Homo sapiens: one gene and its partner. The protein of the gene in region 2 interacts with the protein of the main gene of each other region in a biochemical or structural test. Each region holds a gene or a part of one and is shown on either strand. Other genes may lie near its edges.

What was found. The genes of interacting proteins can lie anywhere in the genome.
Region 1: the proteins of TLE1 (region 2) and LEF1 form a complex in vitro, tested with the Homo sapiens proteins (2 studies listed by BioGRID and IntAct, with this or other methods).

The regions. Positions count from the first base shown.
Region 1 is NC_000004.12:108,050,324-108,054,074, forward strand, and holds part of LEF1 (lymphoid enhancer-binding factor 1), read right to left. Parts: intron 1-3,751. UniProt on the Homo sapiens protein: Transcription factor that binds DNA in a sequence-specific manner. Participates in the Wnt signaling pathway. Activates transcription of target genes in the presence of CTNNB1 and EP300.
Region 2 is NC_000009.12:81,682,942-81,686,692, forward strand, and holds part of TLE1 (transducin-like enhancer protein 1), read right to left. Parts: intron 2,956-3,751; coding exon 2,892-2,955; intron 2,780-2,891; coding exon 2,735-2,779; intron 1-2,734. UniProt on the Homo sapiens protein: Transcriptional corepressor that binds to a number of transcription factors. Inhibits NF-kappa-B-regulated gene expression. Inhibits the transcriptional activation mediated by FOXA2, and by CTNNB1 and TCF family members in Wnt signaling.

The DNA.
Region 1 (3,751 bases), on a different chromosome or scaffold from region 2:
AGGGACAAGAAGACTGGTGGAGCCGGAAGTGCAGGGTGCTCTAGATTGGAGGTGTTAGCCCTGCTTGAGAATGGGGCCACAGCAGGGCCATGGAAGTTGTCTGTACCTCAGTACTTCACAGTTCGCTGTGCCAGGCCCACAGAGGTATGGATCTTGCACGCAGGAGGATCAAAGAGCTACGAAGGACCCTGCCTTTCTACGGAGAAAGAAACAGGGCTCTAGCAGAGCCTGGGGTGGGAGAGAGGGCACCCCACAGATTCCTATTTACATTATAATTTTGCATCACAGATTTTCAAAGGCTTGGTCCAGGTTGCTCTTCCTGGGAAGGTTTTCCTCTCAGTCTGACATGAAAACATTTAGTTTCCTGGTGAGGCCTGGCCTTGCAGTCCTAGGCTAGCGCCTGAGACAAGCACTGGGACTCAGAATAGACTCGCCATTGGCAGCCAGGAACGCCTGAGGGAGACAACCTGCCCTTCTGTTGGGCCATCCCACCACTGCCTGGCACAGCGAACTGTGAAGTACTGAGGTACAGACAACTTCCATGGCCCTGCTGTGGCCCCATTCTCAAGCAGGGCTAACACCTCCAATCTAGAGCACCCTGCACTTCCGGCTCCACCAGTCTTCTTGTCCCTTCACTGCCTTACCTAAGGGTGCCTTCTCCTCCTCTCTTAAGCTGAGTACAAGTGATAATATAGTGATTAACACAAACATGGGTGCCCAGAGATAGCCATTTACCTAAAGGATAGTATGTCACTTGCCAAGAAAGAGTCTATATCTCCTAATAAAGTCATTTCTTTCCACAGTCTCACATTTTCCCACCTGTTATTTCCTTATTCCATGGGGTCACCTTGCAAATTCTCCTGGAAAGTTGGCTTCAGAGAACCTCTGTACAGTTGCTTACCAAAAAGCAACTAATCCCTTTCAGGGACTAGTGCTTAAAAAAAAAAAAGAGCAAAGAAATTCCTTCACTATGAAATGAGGCAGTTTGTCCCTGGTGGCTCTTTTAAAATACAGGGATGTCAGGGGAGACCAAGTCTTACTTCCAAGTGGGAGAAACGGGGGCCTTGTAGTGTTGCTTTACAGATATAAAACAGGTCCAGTCCAGATTATTTTCAAGAAACCACAGGCATGAGGCTCCAGGGGCTGGAGCTTTCCCACATCTAAGGCTTCACTGGGGGGCTGCGGCTGAAGCTGGGCCAGGCCAGGCGAGCCCCGGCACAGCCCAACCCACCAGTGAAGTCTGCGCAATCAAAGCCAGCAATTACTGCTCTCCGGCTGCGGCTGGGCTTCAAAGGGAGTGAGGCAAGGCCCATCTTACATATGTTCAGACTTGGGCTCCCTCCACCAGGAGTCACCACGCATTTGTACTGGGGATGCAAAGGCGGCACAAGACCCCACCCCACCCCATATAACCGAACCCCCCTGATGCTCTCCTGGACCAAATTCCAATCTTGACAAAATATCCCATCAACCAAATGGAACCATGAACCCAAATGGGTAGAGTTCCTTACTAAAAGCCCAAGCAATAAAGGTGAATCTAAAGATTTCAAGAGTGGGCCTGTTTCTGGGAGGTCAACAGCACCGACCCTGGGCCAATAGGGCTTTACAGACCCTGACTCAGGAGTGAAGAAAGGGAAAGGGGGAAACTCCTTCTCTCTAAGCCCAAATAAATGTAAAATCCTACCAAAAGCAGAGCGCTTGGCCAGCTCATGTCCTGGGGGTTCCTCCCCAGGCTGTCCTCTGGAAGAAAGGGCCAAGGAGACAAGTCTATGGGTGAGCTCTGAGGTGGTGGAGTGGAGGGTCAGGAGCAGGCAAGGGCCAGCCCTGTCAGGGTGCCACTCAGGGCTCACTGGCCAGTCAGTTTAAGCTGTCCAGGCCAAGGCAAGGGCAGCAAAGCTGGTGTCCAGGAACAAAATGCACCCCTGCCCCATCATGTAATATCACTTCCTTATTCAGAATTGGTGAGGATACAAAAAAAGTGAGTTGGAATAAAAGACCCTTTCTTCGTCGTCCTCTTCCTTTTACGCCACTCTCAAATGCTACTAACAAGAGGCAGGAGCCTTAAACGATGTGCAATTTGAGGGGAGAATATTAGAGATTGGTTTTATGAGAGGTAAACAGATTCACAGATTTTAATTGCAAAAATGGAATTCCAGCATCACACCACACACCTCATGCCAATTGTCTCCATTTTTACACCTTGGGAAAAACTGACAAAAGCCTGTGATTTGAGGGTGTGAACTCTTCTGCTGCACAATGTCATGTGTGTATGAAGGAAGAGAGGTACAGACTTCTACAGCAGGAAGCAAGCGTGACAGAGCTAGTCTAATCCTGTTTTTTTAGCAGAGACTTAGGAATATGGTCATAAAATGACTGGCCCATGGTGACCCCTAGAGAGTCCCAGTGCTGGGCTGTTCCCCAGGCCTCCTGGCATCATAAAAGTGACAGTCTTGTTGACTTGAAGGTGGTCTTGTCTGCAAGAAGCTGGTGAGGGGGAAGGAACAAAAACACTGTCCACTACGCACTGATTTGCCAGGCACTGAGACATGGACTTTAGAATTTCACATTATCATCATTACAGTTTGCATCTTCCCACCCACTTACAGATAAGGACACTGAGGCTACCTGAAGTTCAGTAACTTGCCAAAGGTCACCCAACTAATAGGCAGCAGGATGAGCCTCTGAACTCTCAACATGTGTTCTCTCCACCATACCTTGGAACTAAATTATCATTCACTTTCTTCTCTCCTTCCTACCTTCCATCATTCTGTCTGTCCATCCCCAGGCAACAACCCCTGTATCCTGGTGGAGGCAGTCTACATCTGTAACAGTGCAGCCACCCCCAGGATATCACGCTCTGTTTGAAGAAAGATGATAAAGAGAAACAAACGCATAAGTTAACTTTGAAATTTAAGTCCCTAAGACTGGAAATATAACCTACAAAAGCCAGCTTCAGCTCCTTGACAGTAAACATTACCCAACATTTGAGAAAAAAGAAAAATGAAAATGTGTGGTTAGGAAGGTTAACACTGAGTTTTATTTCTGCAGCTGAATGACTCCTTAGTCCCAGCATTCAAGACTAGTTAGTTAATCCCCTAACCACAAAGCTCTAAAGCAAAAAGATTCCCAGAAGCTGGAGGTGGGAGGAAAGGGGTCATTGCCACTCCTGGATTCATGTTCTACCAAGGCAAGGCTTCCTCTCCTGTGGCTATTCAGAGTGAATTACCATCAGCTCAACCAGACTTTGGCAATGTCAAGATGACTTTGAGACAAGCCTGTGACCGTTAATGAATTACTCCAGGGGAATTTTTCTGTAGCTACTGGTTTCTCTTCCTGATCAGCCTAGCCCTCTGTGTTTGTCTCCTCTGTGAGGACATGTGTCCTATTGGTAGGCCAGACCTCCTGGTGCAGGTCATGACCGCTAGATCCTTCCTACCACGGGAAACATGGGAGAAATGGTCTTGAGCAAGTTTTGAAGGAGAGAGCCTCAAAAGCCCATTGTAGTTCTGTCAGCTGAAGTGCTTCCAGAGGGTAATAACTAGCTAGGTAGACCTCCCTCATCTACTCACCTCCAAACGCTATCCAATCCACATTTCTCTCAACAGACGTTCTCTCACACTAAAGATGTTAAGTTCACCTTCTACAAATGAGGTGACAGGATCAGGGCACACTTTGGTCTTTTTTTGTTTTGTTTACCCAAACCAAGCCCTTCCACAGTTATGCCAGCATTTGTGTGTGCACCTGTGCATCT
Region 2 (3,751 bases):
AAGTAAAGGCAAGGCTTATCAGGAAGTGTTGACACAACCTAAACACGGGCTGTGGGCACCACACCAGGAAAGGAAACCACAATTATACCATTCTTGATTTGGATGCACTTTCACTTTAAAACTTCCAGACAGGAAAGTCAGCAGTGAGATTTGACACTGAAATCTCTAGAACTCACTCCGACAAACCCGTTGAAAGGTGGGAAGGGAGAGCGGTCGTCACACTGGAGACAAATCTTAACAGCATTAAAGCTCTCTGTACGGAAAGTTTCCCCATCACTGCATTTTTTTTTTTTTTTTAGTAACAAAGATGTTGTCAAAAATGACAATTTTTTGTGTCCCCTGATGATGCCTTGCTAGCATTTGGTTATAAGCCATAAAGCAGGAATAATTTCAGCCTGTCAGGAGTCTCGCTAATGCCCAGTTTCCCCCTAGAGAGAATTCCTGTCAAATCTAATGAGAGCTCCAAAGGCCCTCTCTACAATATAATGAGCACTTAGGCCATGCTGGTGATCAGGCGGCAAAAAGCATCAATTTGAGCTTGGCTACACCCTGGGGGCCAGACGTCACCAGTTTTAATAAGAATTATGATTACTAGCTGCACCAAATGCCTCCTCAGAACTTATTATTAATGTGTGACATTCAGAAGGATGTTTTTCAAATGTAAGTCCACTTTAAACTGAATTATAGCACTACTTTGCACAGCACTCTAGTTAAGGGTCTGTCAGCATTTCCAATATCAACTAAATTTCAGGAGGCTCAGTACCCTACTATGAAGAACATGGTGTCTCTCAGCTTTTCACGTTTTTCAAATTGCTAAGCCAATTATACACAGCATATTATTAATGCATACAGGCTCACGGACAGACAGTATATAGCCACAAATGCCTCACTCTGTATAGAAACTCATTAGAAAACTATTCTCACACCATGGTGCTTCTGACCCACTTCACCCCTTCTCCCTACATGATAAAGAAGAGGTCATCCCGCCACATAACCTACAGGAACCCAGAAGAATTACACACCTCTTTTAGCTCCTCCAATAAACCCAGCACCAGCATATAGCATCACACTGAGGTGGTGTTCCCTTGTAAAAGAGTCAATGAGGTTATTAAATCCTTTGAGTTTATGGGTTTAAGAAAAAGCTCAGTCTCCTCTTACTCTTCCATAATATCTGTTATCCAAAAAAAAGTGCCCTTCAGAGTAAATTAAAAAAAAAAAAAAAGATTAAACCGCCTAGGCCAAGTTTATTTGCATAATTCACTTAAATGACGATAGATGTTAGCCACAGATCTTCTAGCCCATTTACTATCAAGAAGTTACAAGTGCCTGAATAAGGCACTAGCCACTGAGAAACACACAAAAACAAAGGCACAAACCCAACATAAAGTAGGCTACCAACTTTGTAAATCATAGTAAAATCTGCATTTTTAAAGGCCCAATTACATTATTAATAAAAGGCCCTGAAAATCACAATCTCTTTCCAAACACAAATCTGAGAACAGATCTAATGTACACGATAACTTAACATTATGAAATCTATGATGAATTAAAAATCAAAGAGTGCGGAGTTACAAAAGCAGAATTCAACTCTGAAACACACTTGCTTAATGAAAGTCTTTGAATATAAGGAAGATCTGAAGGCTGAACTAATCAATTTCTCCACTGTGCCCCAGCCGGTCAGCCATGCTCTTTAATTTAATGAAACAAGGGTTTGAGATGAAATAGCACATATACATCAAGTAAGAATTGTATTGTTGCACTTTGAAATGTGTCCAACTGTGCAACTTCATCTGATGATAATTTTTTAAGAGGCAATCGATTTCTAAAAGACTTATTGTACCAGCGTCTTGATGAAAAAGTGAATGTCAGCGTATCTCCAGAATACTTACACCCTGCCATTAATGCTTTCTTTGGCAGACAATGACTACTCAATCGAGGGTCCTTTGGGCTGAGCAATCATTTAGCTTTTCTTCTCTTATGAGGTCCTTAGTGCCTTGTTCCAGCTCAATACTCTTTTTATACACCATTATAGTAGCCATAAGTGTGAATTTTATGGGAACTTGCAAACTCATAGTCATTGCTAGAGCTTTCCAGTCACTAATCTTTTCATGCTTTAAAAACCACTAGGACTGAAGCAACTCCCAACATATGCTCTGGCCATAAAAAGATGCTTTTTTCACATCCACACCTGCAACAACTGAGAAATTTTTCAAAAATTTGTTTGCTAATAAGCCACTAATCCTGACTATTGCTTCATGCAGCCCCAAAGCATAAAGAATACTCCACAGATAGTCATATACCTTGATTACCACGATTAAAAAAAACTCCTGAATACCCTTCTTTCCCCCCAACAGGTCCACACTTCCTTGCAAAACAGCACAAAAACATTAACTATTCTAAACTTCAGCAACTGTAGAAGATACCCAGCCCTTTCAAGAGGATAAATCTATACAGGTGAAAAAGTAAACTCAAGTCTTAATTCCTATCTGTCAATAAAGAGGCTAGTTTATATTTCCAAAACACCTCTCCCTCTCCTAGTCATTTAAACACTTGTAATTATCAAGAAGCAACCCTTGATGCAGAATACTACCATCAATCCACAGGACAGGAAACCAAGGCAGAAAAATAGCATACAAACCCCCACCCCTAGAGCCCACTACTGAGAACAAAGCCAGTATTATTAAATCATATGAACTGATGTCTCATTTCAGCTTGAAGTTCAACTAAAGCTTACCTGTTTGTGCATTTCAATGTTTAATCCATATGACATTTCATAATACTGTAAAGAGAAAAAAGAATCAAGCATTTCATTAACTCATGTTTTTTACACTCTGCTAACACGTTTGCTAATATCATATGAAAAAGGAAAAAGTCCAATCTTTGATACCTACCATCACATAGTGCCTCTGCATTTCTGTCTTTTCACTTGCCAGTTTCTCACATTCCAATTTAAGGCTAGGAAAACAAAACAGGCAACTTAATGTAAACATTATGTCACTTGTTTTAACATCTGCCTCACATATTTGCACTTCAAGTAAAAACACAGACCAATTTGGAAAAGCCATAAACTATCTAGGTAAACACCCAAAAGCTTTGTCCTTGCATTTAATAGGGAAAAGGAATAATGTGAACAATACAAGGTGTCCATTCAGCTACCATTCTTCTTGGTGCCTATCTGGTTAGATGACAAGAATGAAAAAAATCTGTCAGAACCTCTAACTGATTCCTCCTCATGGTCATCTGCTCCCTACCTTCCTGCATCAGTTTGTTTCTCTGTACTCCACCAAAATCCGGCCCTTGCACAATCTTCACTCTTAGGCATAGGCTGTGCCATCTTTGCCAACTCAAACGGTCTCTAGGTTTGAAAATCCTATCTGTTAAGTTACTCCTACAATTGCTGGTCCCTTTCAAAACCTTTGGTTTTTAAATCCCTGCCAAAATATGTCAAGTAGCTACTGCAATAAAGTGGGTTGAAGTTCTCCCTGCTGGGTAAACACGGTGTGTGCAAGTATGCCTCAAGCTGCAGAGATATTATCTACAAGTAGACAAAAGGTCAATAATGAGAAAGCCCCTGACAAAGTAAGAAAATTCACACCCAAGCCACTTCGCCTCATCTGTGTGCTTTTTCTCAAGCATGACAAAAGCAAAAAATGTCAATACAGTTATTTCTGAGTTAGAATCAGGTAAAACTTCATAGGAACAAGGGAAAGAAACTAACCTTTCTGGGAAGTTCACTATTGGCAAAGTATTT